Regions from separate parts of the Homo sapiens genome. Here regions 1 and 2 are each linked to region 3. Evidence: fine-mapped QTL for protein levels in blood plasma. Region 3 holds a variant in brackets. A gene starts in each other region. All regions are shown on their reverse strands. Region 1 holds the start of C19orf12 (chromosome 19 open reading frame 12). Region 2 holds the start of CRIP2 (cysteine rich protein 2). Region 3 holds the start of PON1 (paraoxonase 1).

The links. PIP is the posterior inclusion probability: the model's chance that the variant is causal. The UK Biobank Pharma Proteomics Project read protein levels with antibody pairs (Olink). The fine-mapping took linkage between variants from a reference panel, not from the people measured, so its PIPs are less certain.
Region 1: it holds the start of C19orf12, and the variant in region 3 is fine-mapped to the plasma level of the C19orf12 protein (UK Biobank, PIP above 0.99).
Region 2: CRIP2 starts here. The variant in region 3 is fine-mapped to the plasma level of the CRIP2 protein (UK Biobank, PIP above 0.99).

What each region holds. Positions count from the first base shown.
Region 1 is chr19:29,709,756-29,717,896 of GRCh38, reverse strand. C19orf12 (chromosome 19 open reading frame 12) reads left to right here and starts at 2,636. Exons shown (of 3, transcript NM_031448.6): 1 at 2,636-2,772. RefSeq lists enhancers at 1,277-1,496, 2,042-2,141 and a silencer at 2,312-3,101.
Region 2 is chr14:105,474,502-105,482,658 of GRCh38, reverse strand. CRIP2 (cysteine rich protein 2) reads right to left here and starts at 7,838. Exons shown (of 8, transcript NM_001312.4): 1 at 7,754-7,838; 2 at 4,299-4,393; 3 at 4,152-4,209; 4 at 3,788-3,928; 5 at 3,612-3,680; 6 at 3,440-3,534; 7 at 3,166-3,223; 8 at 2,497-3,073. The coding sequence starts at 7,796. The coding sequence ends at 3,006. RefSeq lists enhancers at 243-562, 1,343-1,452, 1,121-1,842 and silencers at 1,583-1,732, 7,816-7,925, 8,106-8,157.
Region 3 is chr7:95,321,026-95,329,200 of GRCh38, reverse strand. PON1 (paraoxonase 1) reads left to right here and starts at 4,669. Exons shown (of 9, transcript NM_000446.7): 1 at 4,669-4,799. The coding sequence starts at 4,726. RefSeq lists a silencer at 4,546-4,725. The variant C/T (reference allele first, on the strand shown) is at 4,618.

The DNA.
Region 1 (8,141 bases), not on the chromosome of region 3:
GAGATTGCGCCACTGCACTCCCACCTGGGCCACAGAGCGAGACTCCGTCTCAAAAAAAAAAAAAAAAAAAAAAAAAAAAAAGAAACAACAAAAGAAGCTATAGGGTTTTTGGGTGTGGCCCACATTGCGGATCATCCAGCCCTGGTCTAGGTGGGTGGCTTTAGCCTGAAGGAGCCATGGAAGTTTTAGGAGCTGGTGCACTCAGCTTTGGGAGAAAGTGAGGGCATAGAACGCTGGCCCCGTCTGAGTTTTGACTCTGGCTGGCCGTGTGAACACCACCTAGCACCCTAGGGCATTGTTGGGCCCATCAGCAAGAGAATGTTTTGTCAAGGTGGGGGTAGAACTGGATTTCCCACTACCTTGGGCCCATGAGGCTCATGGGACTTTGGAGAAGCCGCTCATTTTCACATTCTGTAATGTAAACAAGAATAATCTAGATTCATATATATTACCTCCTTTTATGTTGAGAACAACCCTATAGGATAAGTACTACTCTTGTTGCCATTTCCCAGATGAGGAAACTGAGGCACGGAGACGTGGAAGAACTTTCCCTAGGTCACTGTAAGCAGCATAAAGCATCGCTGTGTGCTGGGCCAGTGCCATTTCCGCGCCACCACCGAGACCCCACGGCACGCCTTGCTCACTGTGCAGGAGGCCGCAGTTGCCTTTAGGAGCATGAGGCACTGTGTGCTCCATCTCTGGGGTTCAGAGTGTGCGGTCATGTTATGCCTGCATTCGTATCAGAATGAGGCCCAGGAGGCTGATGGGTTGCAGATTTGCATGCAATGGCGCGATCTCGGCTCACTGCAACCTCCATCTGCCGGGTCCAAGCGGTTCTCCTGCCTCAACCTCCCGAGTAGCTGGGACTACAGGCTTGCACCAACCATGTCTGGCTCATTTTTCCATGTTTAGTGGAGATGGGGTTTCACCATGTTGCCCAGGCTGGTCTCAAAGTCCTGGCCTCAGGTGATCTGCCCGCCTCGGCCTCCCAAAGTGCTGGGATTACAGGTGTGAGCCACCGCGCTGGGCTGCATGAACCTCTTACATGCTTGCCTTCTCTGGAGGGCCTGGACTTTGAAGCTTCTTTCACTCCCAGCATCTTTCCCTACACAGGCCCTCTTCCCCACTATCTCTGGGGGAGGAGTCTGCAGGCCAGTTCTGCAATGTGCCGCCAGAGGGAGCTGCCCGCAGAGAAACGGGAGCGCCACACTCAGGCCCCAGGAAGGCAGCAAGCTGAGTTCCCCTGGCCTCAGTTCACTTTCCCTCTTGAAAGTCACCCAAACTCAAGCAAAAGCTCCGATTCAGGAATAAATGGGGTTGTTTTATCCCAGCCAAGGCCTGGGGAAGCTTGGTATTAAGAGCGTTTGTTCCATTCTTTTAAAAATGGAAAAGGGTCCGTCCTCTGGGTGCCCATGGCACCCTGGAAAGCAGGCAGAGTGCTGGTCACAGGCGGAGACTTTGAGATACCGAGACCGAGGCTGGAGTTTGGGCCCTGAAACTTTCTAACCAGGATGGCCTTGGGCAGAGCAGCCTGTGTTTAGAGCTTCCCATCTGTAATATAGCAGTGACAACCATGCCTGCTTTGCAGGGTTCCTGTTAGGATTAATTCTCTATAGAGCCCCCCAGAAGCCACTTTTGGATTTGAGATGGTTCAAGGCCAGACCTTGCATGACAAGAGTAGGGACAGCTTTCCACAGGCCTCAATAAAGTAGTATTCCCAGGCAGTTCTGCAACCCCAGCCTCATGCCCTTTGCACCTTCCTAAGAGGCTGCCTTGCCTCAGCTTTGGTCCCCATCCAAGACTCCTAAGAGCAAAGCCAGTTCTTTTCCTTTTTTTTCTTTCTTTAAGAGACGGTCTCACTCTGTCACCCAGGTTGAAGTGCAGTGGTGGGATCATAGTTCACTGCAGCCTCGAACTCCTGGGCTCAAGCAATCCTCCCGCTTCAGCCTCCCAAAATGCTGTAGGTCACAGGTATGACTCACCCACCCGGCCTAATTTTTATTATTATTTGTAGAGATGGGATGTCACTGTGTTGCCCACGCTCGAACTGCTGGGCTCAAGCAATCCTCCCTCCTCAGCCTCACTGGCAGCTGGGATTACGAGTCCCACCCAACCTGCTTCTCCTTTTGCAACCCCCAGACCCAGAGGCTCCAGAGCAGGCTCTGGAACAGAGGAAATCTGGCTCCGGCCCACACATTCACCAAATACTGACGCAGCACCCTTGACCTCCAGATGCCCCTGTGCTCTCTTCTGTGCCCAGGCTGCGGGGAGAGAGGGGTCCTCCAGGCCAAAGGGAGGGAGGTCTCCGGGAGGTCCCCGCGGTCCTGGAGGCAGGTGCGCGGGGCCCGGATGTGATCATGCGTGCGCGTGGGAGAAAGGCAGGGCTGGGCCTGCGGGAGCGCGGCCTTGCGGTTCCCAGGACTCTTCTCCGGGCGCCTCGTCTCCTTACGCCACCCGCAACCCAAGCCAGGGCCCCGGTGACAGCGGCGGGGTGGGCCAGGACCGGGGAGGGGGTGCCCAGCAGCGACCCCCGGCTCCCCCTAAGGCCGGGCGCAGCTCGGAGCCAGGAGCTGGCCCGGCGCGTGGCTTCCCGGAAGGCCCGGCGCAGCCGGAAGGTGGGACGGAGGGCGGGGCCAGCGCCGGGGCCGCCACCAAGGCCTGCGCGACCCTCCGCGGGGCTGGGGAGCTGGGCGGGGAGCCCGGGGCCTGCCAGGCCCGGGCTGCAGCCGCGTCTGATCGCCGAGCGCGCCGCGTAGACCTCCGCTCCCCCAGGTAAAGGAGCGCCCGGAGCCGGGGCGGGGCGCCTCCCAGGCCGCGCCCCGCGAGAGGAGGGGGCACCCCAAGAGCAGGCCTGGAGACCCGGGAGTGCCTTGGGGAGAGGGTCCCCGCCCTGCCGGGAGCCCGGCCCTCCCGGTGCCGGGGTGGACACTGTTAGTGTAGTCATTGTCCCTATGGAGAAACTGAGGCATGGAGAGGCTGAAGTCACACAAGTAAGCAGCAGAGCTGGGACTAGAGTCCCGGGCCCTGGCTCGCTGTCACCCAGGAGTGGCGTAGGCATGGGTGTGGTGGGTGGGGGTGGGGTGCGGGTGGTGGATGTGGTGGGAGTGGGTGAGGTTGGGTGGGGTGGGGATGTGGGTTTGGCGGGGGTGGGGTGCGGAATGTGATGGGTAGGGGTGGGGTAGAGTGGGGGTGGCTGGTGGGGCAGGGGCGGGGCTGGGGGTGGGGTGCTAGGTATTATAAATGTGAAGCGGATCCTGACAGGACACCTGTGGGGCAGCGGAGCTGGGCTGAGCCATATGGGAAGAAAATCTGGGCGCTAGTTTAGATTTGGTCAGGAAGGGTCGTTAATGCTTTAGGAGGTGAGATTAGTTTTGGGGATGGCAGGTAGTTTGTTGAGCTTTTGTTTAGACAGTCTTGCTCTGTTGTCCAGGCTGGAGTGCAATGGCGCGATCTCGGCTCACTGCAACCTCCACCTCCCTCGTTCAAGCAATTCCCCTGCCTCAGCCTCCCTAGTAGCTGGGATTACAGGCGACACCACCAAGCCTGGCTAATTTTTTTGTATTTTTAGTAGAGACGGAGTTTCACCATATCGGCCAGGCTAATCTCAAACTCCTGACCTTGCGATCCACCTGCCTCAGCCTTCTGCAATGCTGGGATTACAGACGTGAGCCACCCCGACCAATTTTTGTATTTTTTAGTAGAGACGGGGTTTCACCATCTTGGAATAGCACCTGTAGTTCCAGCTACTCGGGAGGCCGAGGCGGAAGAATTGCTTGAGGCCAGTTCCCGACCAGCCTAGGCAACACAGGGAGACTGCGTTTCTGGAAAAAACAACAACAACACCAGCAACAACAAAAAGCAGGAAGGAAGGGGAGAGGGAAAGAGAAAGAGAGAGAGAGAGAACGAAAGAGAAAGAGAAAAGGAAGGAAGGAAGGAAGGAAAGAAAGAAAAAAAGAAAGAGGGATACTTTGAGAAGCTTTGAAGTGATCTGTTTATTGATCAAGTAGATAGGTAAGGTGCATGCTGCCAGGAGGAGCTGGGGTAGGGAGGGCAGGGCCCTGCTGTATGGGGGTGGGCAGGGGACGGCCCCTGCTCAGCCCTGGCCTCCATTGCTACACAGAATGGCAGGTCCAATGTGATCTGGTCTTCTGATTTTTCAGGAGAAATCAGGAATCTGAGGTGCATGCAAAATCTCCTGATTTTTAAATATTGGCAACTAATTTGTTTTAAAAAAACAACAACTATGAGCTAATCCAAAACTGTTTGCTGGTGGGATCCACCTACTGCCTTTGCGCTGGGGTATGGAGAGGTGGGAGGTCAATGTTGACAAGAGCCAGATCTAATTTTTTGTTAAAGAAAAGGGTACTTGGAGGTCAGATAGCTCTCTTCATAGCTATCTGAAGCCTTCCTCTCCCTTATCTCTTACAATCTGGTCCAAACTCAGAAAGCTAGGCCGCTCTCGGTGAGATGGGCTTGTCTCCGTCTCTCTGTACCTGTCAGAGCAGCCTGGGCGCCTGCAAGAAACCGGGGCTTCCAGTTGGCATTTGCCTTCCCTGTGGCTGGCAGATGGGCTTCCTGTGATCAAGGCCTGGTATGTGGATAAATCTGAGTGTGAAATAGGTGTGATACAGTGGGGGAGGGGGAGCCACACTCCCACCCCCTAAGGTCTGTCCCCATCCTCCCTCCTCACCCACTTCCCTGTCATTTACAGACAAAGGCAGCCTTGCGGTGGGAGAAGGAGCAGGGTGGGCTTCCCTCTCAATCTGGTGAGCCTGGAGAATTCAGGAAGCTGAGCTTTTTAGCAAGGGCTCAGGAGATGGAGTTACTAACCTTTCTTCCCCAACAAGAGCCTGTTAATGCTCTAACTTCTGAAATGATTACTACAAAGAAATTGAACCTTGGATGGAGTCAGCCACAACATCTCTACCCGTGGTGCTGGACTATTAAAACACAGTGACTTCCTCTGCCTGCCCTCACACACGCAGTGATAGCTGCTGGCCCTCCCATTCTGCAGAACCCTGGGCTTGTGTCTCAGTGAAACCTGCCTCATTGTCTGAGATATCACTGAAGTTCTGGGTCTCATGGCCAAGGAAATCAAGGACGCAGACACTCCAGAGGGTAGGTTAGAGCAGAAGTTTAATAAGCAAAAGAAAGAAAGCTCTCTGGATCAGAGAGGGGTCCCAGAAAGATGGGTTGCCATTTTACAGTGAAATGCAAGGGTTTTTATAGAAAAGCTGGTGGGAGGGGTGCTTCATTTACATAAGGTGCGAATTTCTGAGTCCCCCGCCCCACTGTTTCTAGTGCACATGTGGGCTTCTTAGCCTGAGTTACTACTCCATGTTGCTTATTTCTTCCTACTGTGCATGTGTGAAAAAGGTTGGGTGGTGGGGGGGAAGAACACTCCAAGGTAGACATGCCTGGTCCAGGGTAGCTCTTCTTATCAGTGCCATGCAAGCCTCTGTGTCTGAGTATTTCTTTTTTCTTTTTTTTTTGAGACGGAGTCCCACTCTGCTGCCAGGCTGGAGTGCAGTGGTGTGATCTCAGCTCACTGCAACCTCCACCTCCCGGGTTCAAGTGGTTCTCCTGCCTCAGCCTCCCAAGTAGCTGGGATTACAGGCGAGCACCATGACACCTGGCTAATTTTTGTATTTTTTTAGTAGAGATGGGTTTTCACCATGTTGGCCAGGATAGTCTCGATCTCTTGACCTCGTGATCTGCCCACCTCGGCTTCCCAAAGTGCTGGGATTACAAGCGTGAGCCACCGTGGCCGGCCGTGTCTTGAGTATTTCTAAGAAGGGAGAGGACTGTGCTTACTGGGGCCCACCATATGTCTGTATGTCACACAGGGGACCCGCTTTCTGTGTTAGAGCTTGCCTTCCTTATCTGTGTTTCCTGAAAGGGCAACGACTTCTTAGGCTGCTTTTTGTTAGAAGGGAATTCTGCCAAGGACCCTTGCCCTAACTATTTGCCTAATTGATTTCTCTCTCTCCTCTCACATTGATGCTGGCCTGGCTGGAGCAGGTAGAGCTGGAAGTAGCATTTTTGCAAGGACATCTCTTTAGCCTCTGTAGATTTTCACCTCAAGTCATTCGGAGCAGGTCGGAAGCTAGGTTTTTTTTGGGGGGGGAAGCCAGTAGAGCTAAAGTGGTTATGTATCTGTTTCCTGCCTTCCTTCTTTCCACTTCTACATGCATTTTCTTGCTGTGCAGAAACTGTTTTGAGAGTGCAGACCCAAAACTGCAGAAAACCTGTTTTGGGAGTGGTGTCTGGGTGCTGGCCTGGAAGCCAGCCTTGCAGACCAAGCATGGCAGGGCTCAGGGTCTTCACGCCCGGGGAAAGGGAGGTTCCTTGCAGCCTCCAAAGGGGCCCTCCTGAGACCTGGGCAGTGCCTCTCTTTTTCCAATATAATTGACAGATGAAAAGCTGGATATAAACCAGAACTAAGCTCAAAGGTGATTAGATATTTTACACCAGGATTTTGAGCTTTTTGTAAGATTTTACTGTAAAATTATTTCCTTTGGTTACTTTAATATGTACTTCAAATATATCTCATTTTGTGCTGGACGTAGTGGCTCACGCCCATAATCCCAGCACTTTGAGAGGCCAAGGCAGGCAGATCACCTGAGGCCAGGAGTTCAAGACCAGCCTGGCCAACATGGTGAAACCCCATCTCTACTAAAAATACAAAAATTAGCCAGGTGTGGTGGTGCATGTCTGTAGTCCCAGCTATTCGGGAGGTTGAGGCAGGAGAATCGCTTGAACGTGGGAGGCGGAGGCTGCAGTGAGCCGAGATCGCGCCGCTACACTCCAGCCTAGGTGACGGAGCAGACTCTGTCTCAAAAAAAAAAAAAAAAAAAAAACCTCTCTGTATATCTCTATCTAGCTATCTATGTCATTTTGTTTGTGTGATAGCTTTTCAGGACCATGGTGACTGGATAAATCAGGTTCTGCGCTCCGTCTCCCCATTTCCAGGTGGCTTCTGCCTGTTCAGTCCTGACACTGTTATAATGCCATTTTATCGTTTAGACATTTGTATGTAAACAAATCTTGACCACTGGAATAGTGGAAGGGGGTTCTCTTCTGGGGAGAAGGAGGAGGCATTCAACCTGTCAGCAAGCAAAGGAGCTGGGCAGGGCCTGGAAAGCAGGAGACCAGGTTTTGGGAGACCCAGGGCACAGGGTAGCCAGAGCAGGGACCCCCAGGCCTGAGTGCTCCTCCAGTCCCTTATGTGAGCAGGGCTCACAAGGCCTGCCCTCCCACTGCCTCTCATACTCCATGGGGACAAAAAGACATATCTAGGGGTGCTTGTTTGCAATTTCTGAATTTGAAGACTGAGTAACGAATGTCAGAGTCCTGCGTTATGCCCTCTTGGGGTCTTGCTGCCCAAAGTGAGATCAGAGGAGCACTTTGGGGGCTTGTTGGAAATGCAGAATCTTACCCTCCCATACTGGCTGTATCTGACAAGGTTTTCAGTGATTCCCGTGCACTTGTGGAGAATCACAGGTCTAATGTGTACCAACGGGGAAAAAGAAGGGAAATTTACAGGGGCAGGAGCGCAGGATGCTCTCCTGGGACTGCAGAGAAGTTCTGAGGACCTGGCTTTGCGGTCCTCTCATGGATTCATGGGTTTGTTCTCTGGGCTCAAAATTATATCCCAGGATTGGGAGAGCAATTTTACAGTAGGGACTTCTGCTTCTGGATCATCCTTGGGTCAGAAAAGCACACATGTCTGGGTACGGTGGCCCACACCTGTAATCCCAGTACTCTGGGAGGCTGAGGCAGGAAGATTGCTTGAGCTCAGGAAGTCAAGACCAGGCTGGGCAACATTGCGAGACCCTGTCTCTATGAAAACAAAAAATTAGCTGAGCGTAGTGTTGCATGCCTTTAGCCCCAGCTACTCAGGAGACTGAGGTGGGGGGATCACTGTAGCCCAGGAGTTCAAGGCTGCAGTCAGCCATGATCGCACCACTGCACACCAGCTTGGGCAACAAGAGACACTGTCTCTTAAAAACAAACGAACAAACAAAACAAAAAAACCTCATAAAACATATAACCCAAAGATATTAAGGTCAAATGTAGTGGCTCACGCCTGTAATCCTAACACTTTGAGAGGCTAAGGCAGGAGGATCTCTTGAGCCCAG
Region 2 (8,157 bases), not on the chromosome of region 3:
GGTAGCTGCAGGCTGAGCTGGCCCCACAAAGATGCCTGGCTGGGGGCACCAGTGAGGGCCCCACCAGCCCAGGTTGGAGTGGGGGATACCTTGGAGGGACCTGGCCAGGAGACACGGGAAGACTGGACAGTGGGGGTACAGACGGGGAGCGGCACAGCTCGGTTCAACAGAGCGCCGGGGTGTGAGCTTAGCCCCATGGGGCACCAGGGCCTTGTGGATCCCTGGACTTGGTTCCCAGGGGTTCTGAAGGGGAGGGATGGAGCAGATAGCATTTCAGAGCCGCCTCACTGGCCAGGCATAGGTCCAAGTAGAAGAGAGTGAAGGTTGAGGGCAGAGCAGCCCCCAAGGCAGGGACAGAGAAGCAGGCACGCCCAAAGGCAGAAGAGCCCATTCCAGATTCCCCTCCCTTTTAGGGGATATCTGGGTCTGTGGGCACCCAAGGGAGCACCTGGCTGGCAGGCGGCTGGGAGGGCATAGCTTCCTGGAGCTGGAGACACCAAGCGAGCCCTGTTAGTGCCGTGGGCACCCAGCCAACCCCAGCAACACCGCCTAGCGACGCAGTCCAGACAAACAGTAGCAACAACCGCCCCGGTTTCCATGACAATGACTTGGAAACAAACACGGCAGGCAGGCGTCATCCTCAAACCGGCCCCGCAGGAAATGGTCCTGCCCCAGCCAGACCTGGGGTCGGGGGTGCTGCTGTCCCTGGCGGGGTCAGGGGCTGATCTCTGGAGGAGACCCCTTACCCACATCATCCCCGCAACCGACCCTGGAAGGTCTTCTGGCACACAAATCCCCCACCGCCGCCCAGGTTTTAGAGAAGGGCACACCACCCACCACTCTCCTCACGACATAGTTTCCACTGGAGGCTCCCAAGGGAGGGGGGTCCAGCTGAGCCCTCCAGTCCCCCCCCCGCCCCCCGCCCCGCCAAGCTGAAAGCAGGAATTTCCCATGCAACCCTGGGAGCCCGCAGCAAGGGCGGAGACGGGCACTCCGGAAATTCTCAGTTCTCCCGAAACAACCCCCCAACACACACAAGGAAGCCTGGGCCTGGCAGGAGGGGATGAGAAGGGGAACCATCCCAGCCTCTCCTGTGAGCAGGGGTCTGGAACCTGCCTGATCCTCCCCTCTGCCTGGGGTTGGGGACTGGCCGTCCCTTCCGCAACGTCAGGCCCCGGGGGTTTTGGCTGAATTCCAGGTGGGAGGAGACCGCACTGGGTGCCTGGCTGGAGGGCAGCTGTGGTACGGCTGGACCCCGGAGCCAGCCCAGGCCCCGCCAGGACATGGATGGCTGCTCTCGGGACAATGGGCTCAGCATCCAGGCTCAGCTCCGTCTGAGCCCATGGGCTGGAGGGTGGCCAGGCAGGGAGCTGTGCCAACGGCTGGGAGCAGGGAAGAGGCGTAAAGCCCCGGCCACCCTGTAGCACTGGGGACAGGGGCCTGGAGGTGGCCAGGTCTGAGTGCCCCTCACTGAAGGAAGGGCCAAGGCAACTTCGGTGTGGTGCCAGGAGCAGAGGAGCATAAACCAAGGTGGGAAGTCCAGATGGCGCCAGGACAGGGCTCAGCCACTGGGGAAGGTCTCCACGTTTCTGCTCTGTGCTGCCAGAATGGGACAGTGCGCCCTCTAGTGGGCACCCGAGGAGTGGCGCACAGCAAAGGCGGGGCGCGGGGGAGGGGAGAGCTCCTTGGAGCCGCCAGCGCCCCTGGCTGAAAGGGCAGAGCCTGGACCATGAAGACGCCAGGGGCGAGTCGGTCATCACTAAAACCTTCACCAGAACACTTGGGCAGGGATTCTGTCCCTGGGCCACACCCAAGGCAGGCCTGTCCACAAAAGCCTGTCCATCACCCTATGGACAAAAGCTGGAAACAGCCACGCTGAGCCTCTCCAGTCCTTGCTCTGACCAGAGCCCCCAAACCCTCCTGCGCATCCCAGTCCAGTCTGGGGCTGCCAGAGACCTCTGTCCCACCCGACCTTCGCCGGCTTCCCCATTCTCTGCCCAGGACCCCTCCTCTGGTCCCCGGCCCCCTTCCCTCCTCAGCCACACTCTGCTCTCAGGGCGGACCCCTCCTGCGCTTGCCAGGGTCCACACACCCAGGCAGCTCCGGGTTCTCAGGCCTGCTGTTGGTATTTTCAGGGTTCTAGGTTCAACTTTTCTCCAAGGCTCTGTCCTCCATGGACCCCACCCTCACCTGACCCTGGCCAGGACCCTGGCCCCGGAATGCCTCCCACCTTCCTTACCTCCCCACAGCCTGGCGTTCTTACTGCCTCCCCATCTGGGTGGGCACCACCACCCAAACCGGAGACCACGCTCCCCGCCCCCATCCCTCCCTCCTGCTCAGAAACATCCCAGGGCCCCACCTCCCACTATGACCCCCAGGAGAAGAGCCCACCCCCACTAGCAGCCAGGCCCAGGGGTGTTGGCTGGGAGCACGCATGGACCGGAGAAAGGGACCCTGGTCTGGGATTTGCATCCATCCCACAAGCAGAGACAATCCTGCAATCCTCAAACCGTTTATTGACAGCACAAGGCTCAACAGCAGGTGAGCCACGTGAGGGTGGCGAGCGCTTGCGAGGCAGTGTGGGCACCAGGCAGGGGATCCCGGAGGGAAGCCCTCTGCCAGGGACATGGTGAGGGCGTGGCCATCACCCACGAAGGGAGCATAAATAACACTGGCAGGTGGGTGGGCAGCAGGAGAGGGAGAGCGGACAGCGCCACGGGGACACGCAGGGTCGGCGGGAAAATGCTGGGACAGGGTCACACGGGGATTCGGACACGCAGACACAGAAGGGATCATGGGACGCCCAGAGGATGCCAGAGGGGGCAGACACACCAGAGACTCGGGGATGGGCATGGTGCTCTGCCCGTGGCTGCCCCTCCTCCAATACTCGCCCTGGGCTTGCAGGCAGGACTGGGCGGCTGAGCACTCTCCCAGCAGAGCCAAGCAGGGGGGCCCCTGCAGGGTCTGGGGCGCAGGTGAGCCCACATCATGAGAGCCGCTGTAGCCTAGGGCTGGACCTTGCCTTCGGGGTCCCGGTCATAGATGTAGCTGCCCACCGCACCGGTGTTCACTCCTGTGGAGGGAGGCCGCTGGGGTGGGTCGGGGGAACAGTGGAGGGAAGGGGAGGGCAGGGAAGACATCGTGGACCACCCTGGCTACACTCACCCTTGGGTCCGAAGAGGATTCCATAGCAGGGCTTGTGGCAGTAGGGCTGGCCGTCGTGCTGGGGCAGAAGGTGGGTGCTGAGGGAGGAGTCCACAGACTCCCCCGACCCATCACCTGGAGGCTTCCAGAACGTGCAGGCCGGCTCGCCGTGGGGGAGAGGGCAGCGCAGCTCCCAGAAGCACCACCCCCCATCCCCTCTAGGCGCGCCTCTCACCCTCATCCCCCCGACCCCGCGCCCCTGCCCGGCCCCCAAGCCCCGTTGCACTCCCCTCACCTCCGCGTGCCCGCCGGGGGTCAGTGTCTTCCCGCAGCGCTCGCAGCGCAGGCAGGGCCGGTGCCAATCCTTGCCCAGAGACGTCACCTTCTCAGCTGGAAAGGGGGAGGAGTGAGGCCGAGCCCCGGGGCGGGGGCGGGGGCGGGGGTCCGGGGCCCGGGCGCGCACTCACCGAAGTACACCTTCTTGCTGCAGCGCGGGCACGTGTTGGGCTCCCCGGTGAAAGTGGTGACACTGGAGGCTGTGGGGCGCACGAGTCAGGGCGGGGCGGGGCCGGGGGTGCCCACAACCCCCAGCCCCAGCCCGCGCGTGCCCACAACCCCCAGCCCCAGCCCGCGCCCAGCCCACCTCTGCTGGGCCCCTTCGGGGGGCCGCTCGCCTTCCGCTCCTCTGCTCGGGCCGCGGGGACCTCGATGGGGCCGGTGACCTGCGGCCCCTCCGCCAGGGGCTTCTCGTAGATGTAGGAGCCCGCGCCCCCGATGTTCACGCCTGCGGGTGGGGGTACGTGGGGCGGGGGTACGTGGGGTGGGGGCCGCGGCCACCGGGCATCTCAGAAAACGGCCCGCTGGGGACTGGGGGGCACTAGGCTTTCCAGGGTGGCAGGGACTCTGGGCGGGGATCCACGGCGGCCGGGACCCCCAGCCCTCCCCAGCGCCAGCGCCACGCCCCTCCCAGCAGGTCCCAGGGCAGGCCGAGGGCAGCCGGAGCTCACCTTTGGGTCCGAACAGGGTGGCGTAGCACGGCTTGTGGCAGAACGGCTTCCCGTCATGCTGCGCAGAGGGGCGCGGGTCAGGACCCTGCCTGAGGGTGGCGGGAGTCGCGACCCCCGCCCCCGCCCGCGCCGCGCAGTGGGGCTCACCTCGGCGTGGCCCCCGGGCGTCAGCGTCTTGCTGCAGCGCTCGCACTTGAGGCAGAACTTGTGCCAGTCCTTCCCCAGGGAGCTCACCTTCTCGGCTGAGCGGGAGGGGCGGCAGGGGGGTCAGGGCCGGGGCGCGCCCCGCACCCCCTCCGCCCCCACCTGGCAGCCACCACCCCCACGCGCTCCGGGGGTCCCCACTTTCAGGAGGTCTCCCAGGCGCCTTCCTTCCACCTGGCGGGCCCTGCCCCTCCTTCTGAGACCCGGAGGAGCCCGTCGCCCCCAGGCCCTGTTCTCCCTCTGGGTCTCAGCGCCCCCAGCCCTGGAACCCCGCTAGAGCCGCCTTTGAGAAGGGGCCCGGGGCTGCCCTGTTAGTCCCCTCAGTGCCTGCGGTGAAGGGGCCTGTGCTCGAGCCTGCCCGCGCTCCAACACCTGCCCGCGCTCCAACACCTGCCCGCGCTCCAACACCTGCCCGCGCTCCAACACCTGCCCGCGCTCCAACACCTGCCTCCCGGACACCCGCCTCACACCCGCCTCCCCCACACGCCCGCCTCCCCCCACAAATCTGCCTCCTCCCACACACCTTCCTCTCACACACACACCCGCCTCCCCCACACGCCCGCCTCCACACACCCGCTTCCCCCCACACACACCCGCTTCCTCAGACACACACCCGCTTCCCCCCACACACCTGCCTCCCCCCACACATATGCATCTCCCCCACCTGTCATTCCCTCAAACACTTCTCTTACACTCACACACCTGCCTCTGCAGTGCACCTGCTTCAACACATGCTGCTCTCCCTCTCACACCTGCCTCGCACTGACACGCCCCTGATCCCCACCAACTGGGCCCTGATGGGGCTGGCAGCACCCCGCTGCTGAGTCAAAGGTGCAGCCCCAGAACCTCCAGCTCCCTCATGGGAAGGCCAGGCCCCGTCCCCGTGGGTCCTCCAGGCGGGACCCTCATCTGTCTGTGGATTCCTCGTCCTAAACCCTGAGCTCTCCCCCCGCCGTAATGCCCCTGGCTGCCACTGGCATGGAAGATCTGAGGGCAGCTGCTGAGGGTCCGGGACCCTCTGCCACTGCCTCCCACCCCCACACTGGGGCTACTGGACTGCTTCCCAGTGGATGGAAGCAGGGGCCTCCCTAGGGAGCCAGGCAGGAAGAGGTGGGGAGGGGCAGGAAGGGCCCAGCAGAGCCGGAATTCTGAAGGGAAGGGGACAAGCTGCAGGCCCTGGGGGGAGGGAGCATGCAGGCTGGGCCCACCCTGCCCGGCAGAATCTGGCCAAGCCCCTCAGGTGGCCGAGGACCAGTGGCTCTCCCAGCTCCCTTTCTCAGCAAGTGGCCCAGCCCCCTTTGTCTGGCAGATATCGGGGAGGGGCATCTGGCTAGGGCGAAGCCCACTCTGAGAGGCCCAAGGGTGCTGCTCCTGGCAGTGAGATGGGATCCCCCAGGTGGCCTACTAGGTAGAGGGCTGTGAATACTGGCTCTCCGTGGCCCTGGTACAACCCTCTGGGCATGGCCAGGGCCAGCCTCCAGGACACCAGCCCAACCACAAGGCTGCACCAGCTTAGAGCCCTCTGACCAGAACCACTCCACTCAAGGAAGCTGGGACACACCAGGGCAGGCAGGGGCTGGCTGCACGGTGGGCAGGCGTGTCCCAGCAGCAGCAAGGAAGTCTCGGTGGCTATCGGCCGTGGCAGCTGCAGCCCAGGGCTGCCAGCACTGTGCTCTGGCCAGCTCTGGGACGTGGGCCAAGTGGGGGCAGGGAACTGGCCCTCAGACCCACTGGGTGGGTCAATGGCCACACATTACGGGTCCGAGTTGGGAACACAGAATCGATTGGGTCTAATGGCTCAGAAGAAAACCAGCTGCCCACCCTGGCTGCATGGGCTCTGGGGTGGCCTCCTCAATGTGCTCCGACATCCCAGCCTGGGTTCTACTCAGGTATGAGCTGCGGGGGCAGCCTGGTGTGAGGGTGGGCAGGATTCTGGACCCTCGCCCTCACAGTGCCTCCCAGGCAGGACAGAAGCCAGCCGGGTCTGAAGCGCCTTTGTTTTCCGCTGAGAGGCTGGGCGGGCCAGGCAGGCAGGCCTTTCCGGGCTGTCCACAGGACTGTTGGCCGAGACCCTGGAGAGCCCCAGGCTGGCCTGGCCCGGCCTGGGGTAAAGTCATGGGCAGTTGGACTGCAGAAGGGCCCTGGGGACCGTCTCCCACCCTAAGCCTTACAGAGACAGCCCTCGCTGGGACAGAGACTGAGGGCTGAGCGGGCTCCAGGAGAGGCAGCCGGAAGCCCCTCGGCTCCCAGCCACGCCAGAAGCACTCCAGGCCAAATCCGGTCCCTCCCCTCTGGGACGGGCAAAATACAACCTCCCCTCAACCCCCTCCAGCCTGTGAGCCGGGGAAGCCCAGTGGCGGCCTTCCCTGCAGCCTGGCCGCATTCTGGGTATGGGGCGACCAGGGCAGGCGCCCTGTTGGTCCCGGCCCTCCTCTCTGCTTCACTAAGTCTGCCCCCCTTCGTGCAGCAGCTGGTGGGTAGGTGGGCAGGGACCTTACCACCCTGGAGAAAGCTGGGCAGCGAATCAGCCAGGAGGAAGGGGGTAGGAAGGGCGCACCCAGGCCCAGAGAGTGAGTAAGCCCAGACGGGGGGAGCGCGCCTGCCGGAGGGGCTAGACCGAGGGCCGCCTTGCGAGACATCCCTCTTCCCGCCACCACCTGCATCCTGTCCAGGGCTGTTCTGACCTTGAGGAGGCAGGGATCCTGGACACCTGGGCTGCTTGAGCACAAGGTCCCTCTCACGTTCGCGGGAACTCGCGTGTCACACCCGCCCCCACCCTACCCCCGTGTGAAACTCCTGGGGGAACTGGCGCCAAGGGAATGCGTCGGGACAAGCAGGAGGCAGAGGCCAAGGTCGCCCCCGCTTGGACTGAATCCCGACAGAGTCCAAACCTGGCCCAGCCCAGCTCAGCGGAGCCCGGAGTGGGAGCTGGGGGTCACTGTTCCCGGCCACTTGTTCCCGGGGGAAGCGGGTGTAGGGGGTCCAGGAGAAAGGGCCCAGGCCCACGGGAGCGCGCGGGACGCACCCGGGGCGTACAGCCACGCCCTGCCCCGCCCCGCCCGGCGCCGTCCGAGGAACCGGGATGCGTCCGCGGATCCCCGAGCGCTCCCCCAAACACTGGCCTCATCCCGGGGCACCACAAGCCCCGCCCGGGTGGTCCCTGCCCCGCCCCCACAAGCCGCTTCGGGGTTCGGGCGTGACCGCCCCCGCTTTCGCGCAGCCCCACCCTTTGGCTTTAGCCGCTTGGGCAGCGCGGCCAGCCAGCCTCCGGGACGCGCATCCTCGGTCCGGGGCCGGGGCCGGGCGCACCCCGAGTTACGCCGCGGCTCTGCGGCGCGGGACTGGCCGCGAAGGGCGGCGGGATGCACCGAGCGGGCCGGGAGCGGGCACGCACTCACCGAAGTACACGGTCTTGTCGCACTTGGGGCATTTGGAGGCCATGGTCGGTGCGCCCGGTCGGCCCGCGCCCTCCGCCCGTTCTCCTCCGGGCCGCCGCCGCCCGCGCCCAGCCCCGCCTGCCCGGCTGTCCGCGCGCCCATTGGCTCCGCGGCCGGGGCGGGGCCTCGATAACCCGTCCCCCGGGCTGGGGGCCGCCTGGGGGCGCCGCGGGGGCGGGGCGCACCTGCCGGGGGTGGCGGGTGCGGGGCAGCCGGGCCAGGCCTGGCGCCCCCGGGCCCCTCGCGCCGGAGGTGGCGTCTACAGGGGCCCGCCCGGGCGACCGCGGCGCCGCCCGCGCCCCGGCTGTTTCCATGGCGACGTCGGGGCCGCCTGGCCGGGCCGTCCCCGGGGCGGCGGGCAGGGT
Region 3 (8,175 bases):
GAGGTGATAAGTGTTTGTTGTTATAAGCTGACACATTTCAGGCTTGTTTGTTACATGATGGTAGATAACTAATACATCTGTAGGGAAGTGGGGTGGACGTAGGTATGAGAGGGATTGCAAATAGGCATGAAGAAATTTGGAGGCAAAGGATATATTTATTACCTTGATGCCTGTGATGTTTTCATGGGTGAATATATATGCCAAAACTTATTGATTTATATATAATGACATATATTGAATTATAAACACATATAATTATATTTATATATTATAAATGTGTGCAGTTTATTGTATATAAATTATATCTCAATAAAGACGTTTGTATTTTAAAATGGGGAATAAAAAGCTTATGGAAAGACAGTGTTTCAGGCAAAAGAGCAAATGAAAACAAAAGCCCAGAGCAAGAGCTCCAGAAAAAGCAGACCATTTCAAAGTGTGCATTGACATGGGAAACCTTTGCTCTTGGATTTGAAAGAGATAAGTAGGTTAAGGGAAGGAAGGAGGACAAGATTGGTTGTGAAAAGAGGTAAAAGAGAACAAAGAGAACAAATAGTCAGTGACTTCAAACAAATACCATGGATTTTTGTGCAAGAAAGACCACTTGGGTTCTTTAAGGCCCATAGGACAACTGGGTCAGAAAAGGAGAGAGTGGCATCTCTAGTCTACTCCCAAACCATCTTTCAATCCCTGCTCCTCCTGCCTCCTTTATCCCCAACCCCTTGCCATTCATTTGTACTTTCCTTCCCTTTACAAATATTTGAGCATTTACTATGTGCCAGAAACTGTTCTAGGAGTTAGAGAGAAGGTAGTTAGCAAGTTAAGGTCTGTGACCTCTAAAAGTTTACATGCTAGTAGGGGAAGGCAGGTGGCATTAAGTAGGAAGATGATTTCCTATGGAGTGCTGTGAAGACAGTGGTGATAGAGTCCTTAACACCAGGTATGGCACAGCCTCAATCAGTCAGTTCAGTCCCAGCTGAACAAAACACTATTTGGGAGAAGAATCCTAGAGACCCTACTGTGCCAGGAAATAATACCTTGGTTGCTAGATCATGGTAAAGTGAGGGAGGATTCCAGGGAAGAGAGAATGGTCAGTATTGTGGAGGACCTCTTGGAGGGTCTGAGGAAGTGGTTATTTAACAACCACTGTAGAAATATGTCATTATTCTAATAACCAGTAATTCTGTACTGGTGCTAACCATTTGATATCAGCACTGAGGTCTTAGTAACTGGTGCAGAGAGAGGGTTCAGGAGAAGAGGGTGTGGAGGAAGTCTACTCTAGATGGTAATATTGGGAAAGGCCTCTCAGAAGAAGTGACATTTAAGCTATGACCTGAATGAAGAGAAAGAGAAATGCAAGGGGTAGTTGGGAAGTTAAGTCAGGGGGATGGGAAGAGGATTCTAGCCAAAGAATAGCAAAGACAATGATGGTGAAGTGCAATAAACTTGGTGTGTGTACCGAATGGTACAAAAGCTAATGTTGCTGCAACGTTATGCTGAGTGAATTATAAGAAATTAGGTCAGATGATAAGCACAGCCCAGATCTTGTGGGGCCTTTCAGGCCACAATAAGAAAATAAAATGAGAAGCCACAAGAGGGAGGATTTTAAGCATGGAAATGATATAATCTGATTTACATTTTTAAAGGATTACGTGGGCCTTGGTAAGAAGAATGGATTTGTGGGGAGGGTGATTAGGGAGAGAACAATGGAGAATCTGTTCTAGCCTGGAGATGATAGCAGCCTGAACCAGAGTAATGGCAGTGGAAATGGGGAAAATTGGGTTGATTCAAGATTATTTGAAAGTTGTAGTGGTTTCAAAGAGCTATCTATACATTCTTTGATATGTGGGCTAGGCATTTTTGCACTGCTATAAACACCTGAGGCTGGGTAATTTATATAAAAAAAGTTTTAATTGGTTCATGGTTCTGTAGGCTGTACAGGAAGCATGGTGTCAACATCTGCTCAGGTTCTGGTGAGGACCTCAGGAAGCTTAAAATCATGGGGGAAGGTGATGGGCATCACTAGCATGTCACATGGCAAGAGAGGGAGTGGGGGTGGGGGGAGGTGCTATAGTCTTTTAAACAACCAAATCTCACGTGAACTCAGAGCAAGAGAACTCACTCATTACCATGAGGATGGCACCAAGACAATTCAGAGGGATCTGCCACCATGACCCAACACCTCCTACCCTGTCCCACCTCCACCATTGGGGATCACATTTCAGCATGAGATTTGGAGGGGACAAACATCCAAACCATATCAATATGCCTCAAGGCATATGAAGGGGAGCCTCAAAAGGTGAAGTTTAATTCTTCTCACCTTGAATGTAAACTGGAGTTAGCAGTTTGCATCTAACAAACAGAATATGACAGAAGTTAGGGGATGTCATTTCAGAAGTTAGGTTAATAAAAGATTGTGGCATCCATTTTGGAGGCATGCTATCTCACTCTTTCAGATTGCTCATTCTAGTGAAAGTCAGCTACCTTGTTCTGTTGTAGTTCTGTAGAGAGGCCCACGTATCAAGGGACTGAAGTATCAAGGGACTGAAGTCTCTAAAGAGCTGTGTGAGTAATCTTGGAGGCTGATCTCACCTCCTTCACCCACTCCAGTTGAGCCTTCAGATAAGATGGCAATTCACACTGACAGCTCAGCTGCTAACTCATGAGAGACCTTGAGCCAGAGGTATCTAGCTGTGCCATGCCTGAATTCCTGACCCACAGAAATGATGAGATAATAAATGTTTGTTGTTTTTAATGGTGAGACTTTAGTATAATTTGTTATGCAGCATACGATAACTAATACAAAATAGAGCCTATAGGACTGACTGATCTGTTTGGTGCAAGAGGGTGTGAGGAAAAGAGATGGATGAAAGAAGATATGTAGATTTTGGACTTGAGCAACTGGATGGTAGTGATGCCATTTATTGAAGTGTGAGTTTGGGCAGGGGGGATTAAGAGTTTTCCTTTGGACACATTTTGAAAAGACTGTTAAACACCCCAGTGGGCATGTCAACCAGGTAGCCTGCTGGGCCCTGCCCAAATTCCTTATGCACTGTTTATGAGCATAAGAAAATGATTGTTTGGTTTAGCAGCTAACCTTGTGAAATATCTCCAATCTTCCATTCTCACCTTAACCCATTCTAATATGGTTTGTGTTCTTTTGACTCGTGTAGAATTTGTTCTTATTAAACCACCTATTGTATCCATGTTATCTAATTCAGTAGTTACTTCTCTGCCATAAGCATACTCAACTCATAGCCACATTGGACACAGATCATCATTCCCCCTCTTTTCGAATACTCTTCTCTTTTGGATTCATTGGTTCTACTTCTTAGGTAGATTCTTCTGCTCCACCTGGTGTTAACCAGGGTGGCTTAGCCAGTGGTATTCAGTTGGTGGCCAGGCTGTGGTGGCTGGGCTTGTCTAATAGCCCACTTCATTCATTTCTGCTTCCTTGGTGCCGATGGTTAAGAGGTTGGCTTCAGCTGACCACTTTCCCTCTCCATATGTTCATGGCCTTTCATGTGAATGCTCCAGTGGAGTGGTCAGGTTTTTTACATAGTAGCTCAAGGCTTAAGAGCAAGTGTTCAGAAGGAGCAGAGAGAGAGGGCAGTAGTTACAATGTGAGGCCAAAGAAGCTTCCCCCCAGAAAGCTAAAGGTGATAAGTAAAGCATGTTGGTATTGGCTGGCAATATTCCACAAGAGATGAAAGGACAGATATTGCAGAAGAGAGAAGGTATAACTGGGACCAAAAGCCTTGAGAAGGAAAGAGACATGGAGCAAATCATTCACAGTAACAGCAGACAGCAGAGAAGAGAGACATGGTTGTACAGAGGCACCTCCTTTGGGTCTTTACTCAAATGCCCCATTATCAGTGAGAACTTCTCTGACTGCTATTCTTCAGCAGAGGGTATTCCTTATCCCCTTTCTTGCTTTATGTGTTTTCTCCATAACATATGTGCATATCCATAACACACACATGCATCACCTAGAGCATTATATATGCCACAGTGACATGTTTTGCTGATTTCTCAATTGACTCCCCCCATTGGAATGAACGTAAGCTTGAGGAAGACGTTTTGTCCTGTTCTGTAGCATCTAGAACAGCGCCTGGCACATAGTAGGTACTCAATAAATGCCAGCTGCATGAGGAAATGAATGAGCTGTGTGGGGGATGTACTTGAGTGAACTCTAAAGTCAGAGTGGTGTTGAGAGAAAAATGCTTGAAATCCAGATGTTGGAAGGTGACACAGAGTAGTAGCCTGGTGAGAACAGTTAGATCTTAGGGGTTCCTACTACAGCCCTCCCTTCCGCACCTTTTTGGCTGTCACCATGATCAAGCTACTGAATCTCTCTGAGACGCAAGGACCGGGATGGCACAAAGTGAGTGCTCACCAAAGCTTGACTGTCCTTTCCCATGGCAATTTACTTCAGCTTGTTTGATTTCCCCTCCCCGACTGGACTAGGCACCTATTCTCTGTCTTCTCTCTTTACAGTTGGAAGGAGCAAAATGGGACTTTTGGCTGAAAGTGCTGAGCTCCTGCGGTGGGGGCTGACCGCAAGCCACGCCTTCTGTGCACCTGGTCGGCCCAGCTAGCTGCCGACCCGGCGGGGAGGGG[C/T]GGGGCGGGCCAATCGGCGCTGCCCCAGCAGGGCTGCGGCTGCAGGCAGGCAGAGCCTCCTAGCCCGTCGGTGTCTGCGCCCATCGATCCCTTTGTCTATCCCCGACCATGGCGAAGCTGATTGCGCTCACCCTCTTGGGGATGGGACTGGCACTCTTCAGGAACCACCAGTCTTCTTACCAGTAAGTTGGGTTGTGGTGAGGGCTGCAGCCTTCGTCCTCCTCACTCCCTGCCAGCTCCACGAGCCCCCAGAAAGTTGGGTCCAGGCTGTTAACAGAACATTTACAAGCAGGTGCTAGATGCACACTCTGCGGGGGTTTCATAAATGTTTGTCCAGCCGTCATGTGTCACTTGAAAACAAACTCTTGCTCATGGCCTGAGACATGGGATAAGGAGGCAATTGCCAGGGGTGTGAGTGCCCAGGTTGTCAGCATACACGAATTAATTTTTCATGAAGATTTGTGTGCCCTGGCTACAGATTCACTTCTCAACCTGGAAAGAAACAAACTAACCTGGCTGGGGGTTCTCCTGATATTTTGTGTATTAGAGAAAGGAGCCCCTGTCGCTTCTGCGCCTTGACTGCCTGGCCATGGCAAACCTTCCAGGCTTGAAGATTCTCAAATTGAGGCTACTGAGGGCCACAGCAAAACTGCGTGTGGACCCGAGCAGGTGGAGCTAACGTGTGCTGTGATGGTTCGCTTCAGTGGGGGCAGGCGGGGAAGAGGGAACCCTGGAGCCAGCATCTGATGTCCTGGGGTTTAGCTCTGCCCCATGAGTATGCGATTTGGGCAAATCACTTTACATCTCTAACCTTAGCTGCTTCAGTAAACTGGAAATAGTAATACACACTGCCTGCGACAGAGTAGCTATTCAATAAATGTTAGTTCCCTGCTTCCCTTTAAAGTATTTAATAAAGGGTTAAGTGCTATACAAGGGGGGTGGGGATATTTTAAGAATGTATCAAAAGTTTCATAACTTTTAACAGGAGTTCAAAGTCTACAGATCATCCTAGTCTCTAAGGCTTAGTCAACAATGCCTTATTTACTTTAAAGTAAAACCTAATAAAAATTAAATATAAAAAAATTATATGAGCTTATGGACTAATTAGAAGCTTACATTCAGAATGGGTTTTTACTATTTATTGTGGATGTTTTTCTAATTTTTTTAAGTTACAGAGTGCAGAAAAAAAGTAAGAAGCAGTTGGTATTCTTGGCTTTTAAATCATGTAAAAATTACAGTTTGTGAGTTTTTATTAATCACAGTGCTGGTGGCTGCCAAAGGAGATTATAGGTATAGATAAAAATATATAGATAAAGGATGGGTTGCTGAGCCTCCTGGAGTGACCCAGACAGAGGAAGGAAGGGAAATTTTACCCACTGTTGGAAACCCCTAAAACCTAGCTACTCAACTGGGTCTGGGGACCAGATGCCTGAGCATCACCTAGGGGCTCCCTGTACAGGCAGAATCTCAAGCCCTACCCCACACTATTGAATCAGAACCAGCGTCATGGAACAAACTCCCTGGGGGATTAGAGATCATGAATCTGCCCCAGGGAGAGAAGGCAAGAGATGATATCATGAGGCCTGCATCAGGAGCAAGCCAAATCCCCAGGATAGATGCATCCTTTTTTCTTCAGACTTGGAGTGTATGTGTGTGCGGCTCACAGGAAGCTATATATGCCTGGGCTGGAGGGAACTTAAGGAAGCACACAAGGGATGCCTCAAGAGATTTCTGAGTTTCCCAGGTGGGAGCAGTACAGAGAAAAGAACTGAGAGAGTTCCCCTAGACCACGAGTCTCCCACCCACGAGTCTCCCACCTTTGTAGTCGGCTGTATGTGCCGCACAAGTCCAGGGAATGCCTTGGATGATGGTAGAAACAGCTCCCCTCCCCTACCCCAACTTGGGCTATGGAATGTTGCAGCATCTGTATGGCAACTTCCTTGTCCCTACATTGCTAATTGCAATACGTGAGTCCACTGAGTTTCCCTTCTCAGAAGGAAACCACAAAGCTAACGTTGGGCCTCTCGATGCATTTCTGCCATTCCATGCTTACTGTAGGCAACACACAGTTGTGGGAAGAGAGTAGTTGTGGATTCCTGATGACCTGGGTTAGATATCATTTCTGCAACTTTCAAGTTATTTTACCACTTTATTCCAGAAAAGTTCCAGCCAGTTTCTCCACCCGAAAATTAGGGGATAATAATACATATTACAGCATATATATATATATATACACACACACACACACACACATACATATATTTATATTTATATAAAACATATAAATAAAACTAAGTATATATATATATATAAAAATCAGGCATATAGCAGATGTCCTGTAAACGTTAGCTTTTATAGCTGTCATATGTGATCTCAAAAATATAGAGTGATACTTGAATATGTATTATAATCATACTTCATTGAAAGTCTGAGATAAGGACAAATAATCCTCCAACCCTCCAGTCTCCCCTATGAATGCAACCAACACCATCTTCTCAGTCTGATGTACTTGCCTAGTATCTCCACAAAACACTTCAGTGGACATCTGCAGAGTACCTTCTCTTTGCAAACGTTGTGTTTCTGCTGGAGGTTATAGGAATGAATAGGTTGCAGTATTCACTCACCAATTTTAAAGTCTACTGGGAGCAAAAGAACAAAAACTGACAGCTGTGAAACTGACAACTATGACAACTATGGTAAGAAAGTTGACAGATGTATATGTGAAGGTTCCTGAGGGTAAACTAAGGAGTTATTAATCCCAATGCAGAAGACTGGAGAAGCTACAAAGCATCATGAGTAGGGGTCTTTCCAGTGGGTAATGGGCTAAAGAGCATTCTAGGTGAAGGGAAAAGTGTGAGCAAATAAAAAGAGGTATGAAAGAAATACAGGGAAGAGTCCTTAGTATCATGACACTTGATTTCAAATCCCAACTCTACCCTCTTAAATAAGCAACCACATGCAATTTACTCAGCCTCTCAGTGCCTCCATTTCCTTACCTACAAAACAGGGTAAATATTCATCTTTTTCTCAAAGGTGGCTAAAAAGATTAAATGAGGAAGTATGTGTGAGAGCCCTTATTGGAGCTTGGCACATAGTAGGCCATGAAAAGCAATTTGAATGAATGAGGCGTGTGTAGTAGCAGAAAATAGACTGATTAGAGTGAATTTGGCCCCAAGAAGAGTTTGAGAATCGATACGGATTTCTTAATGCCTAGGCAAAGATCTCTGCTTTTTTCTGCGAGCAGCCAGCATGTATTTTCACCGAATACTTCTGCCTTGGTTTGGATGTTCGTCCTCTCCAAACCTCGTATTTGATCTCTAATGTTGGAGGTGGGGCCCAATGGGAGGTGTTTGGGTCATGAAGATGGATCCCTCATGAATAGATTAATGACCTCCTTGGGAGTGAGTGAATTCTCACTCTATTCATTTCGAGAGAGCTGGTTGATTGAAAAGAGCCTGGTACCTCTCCCCTCTCTTACATTCTCTCTCATCCCATGATCTCTGTGAGTACTGGCTTCTCTTCATCTTCTGCAATGAGTGGAAGCAGCCAGAGCCCCTC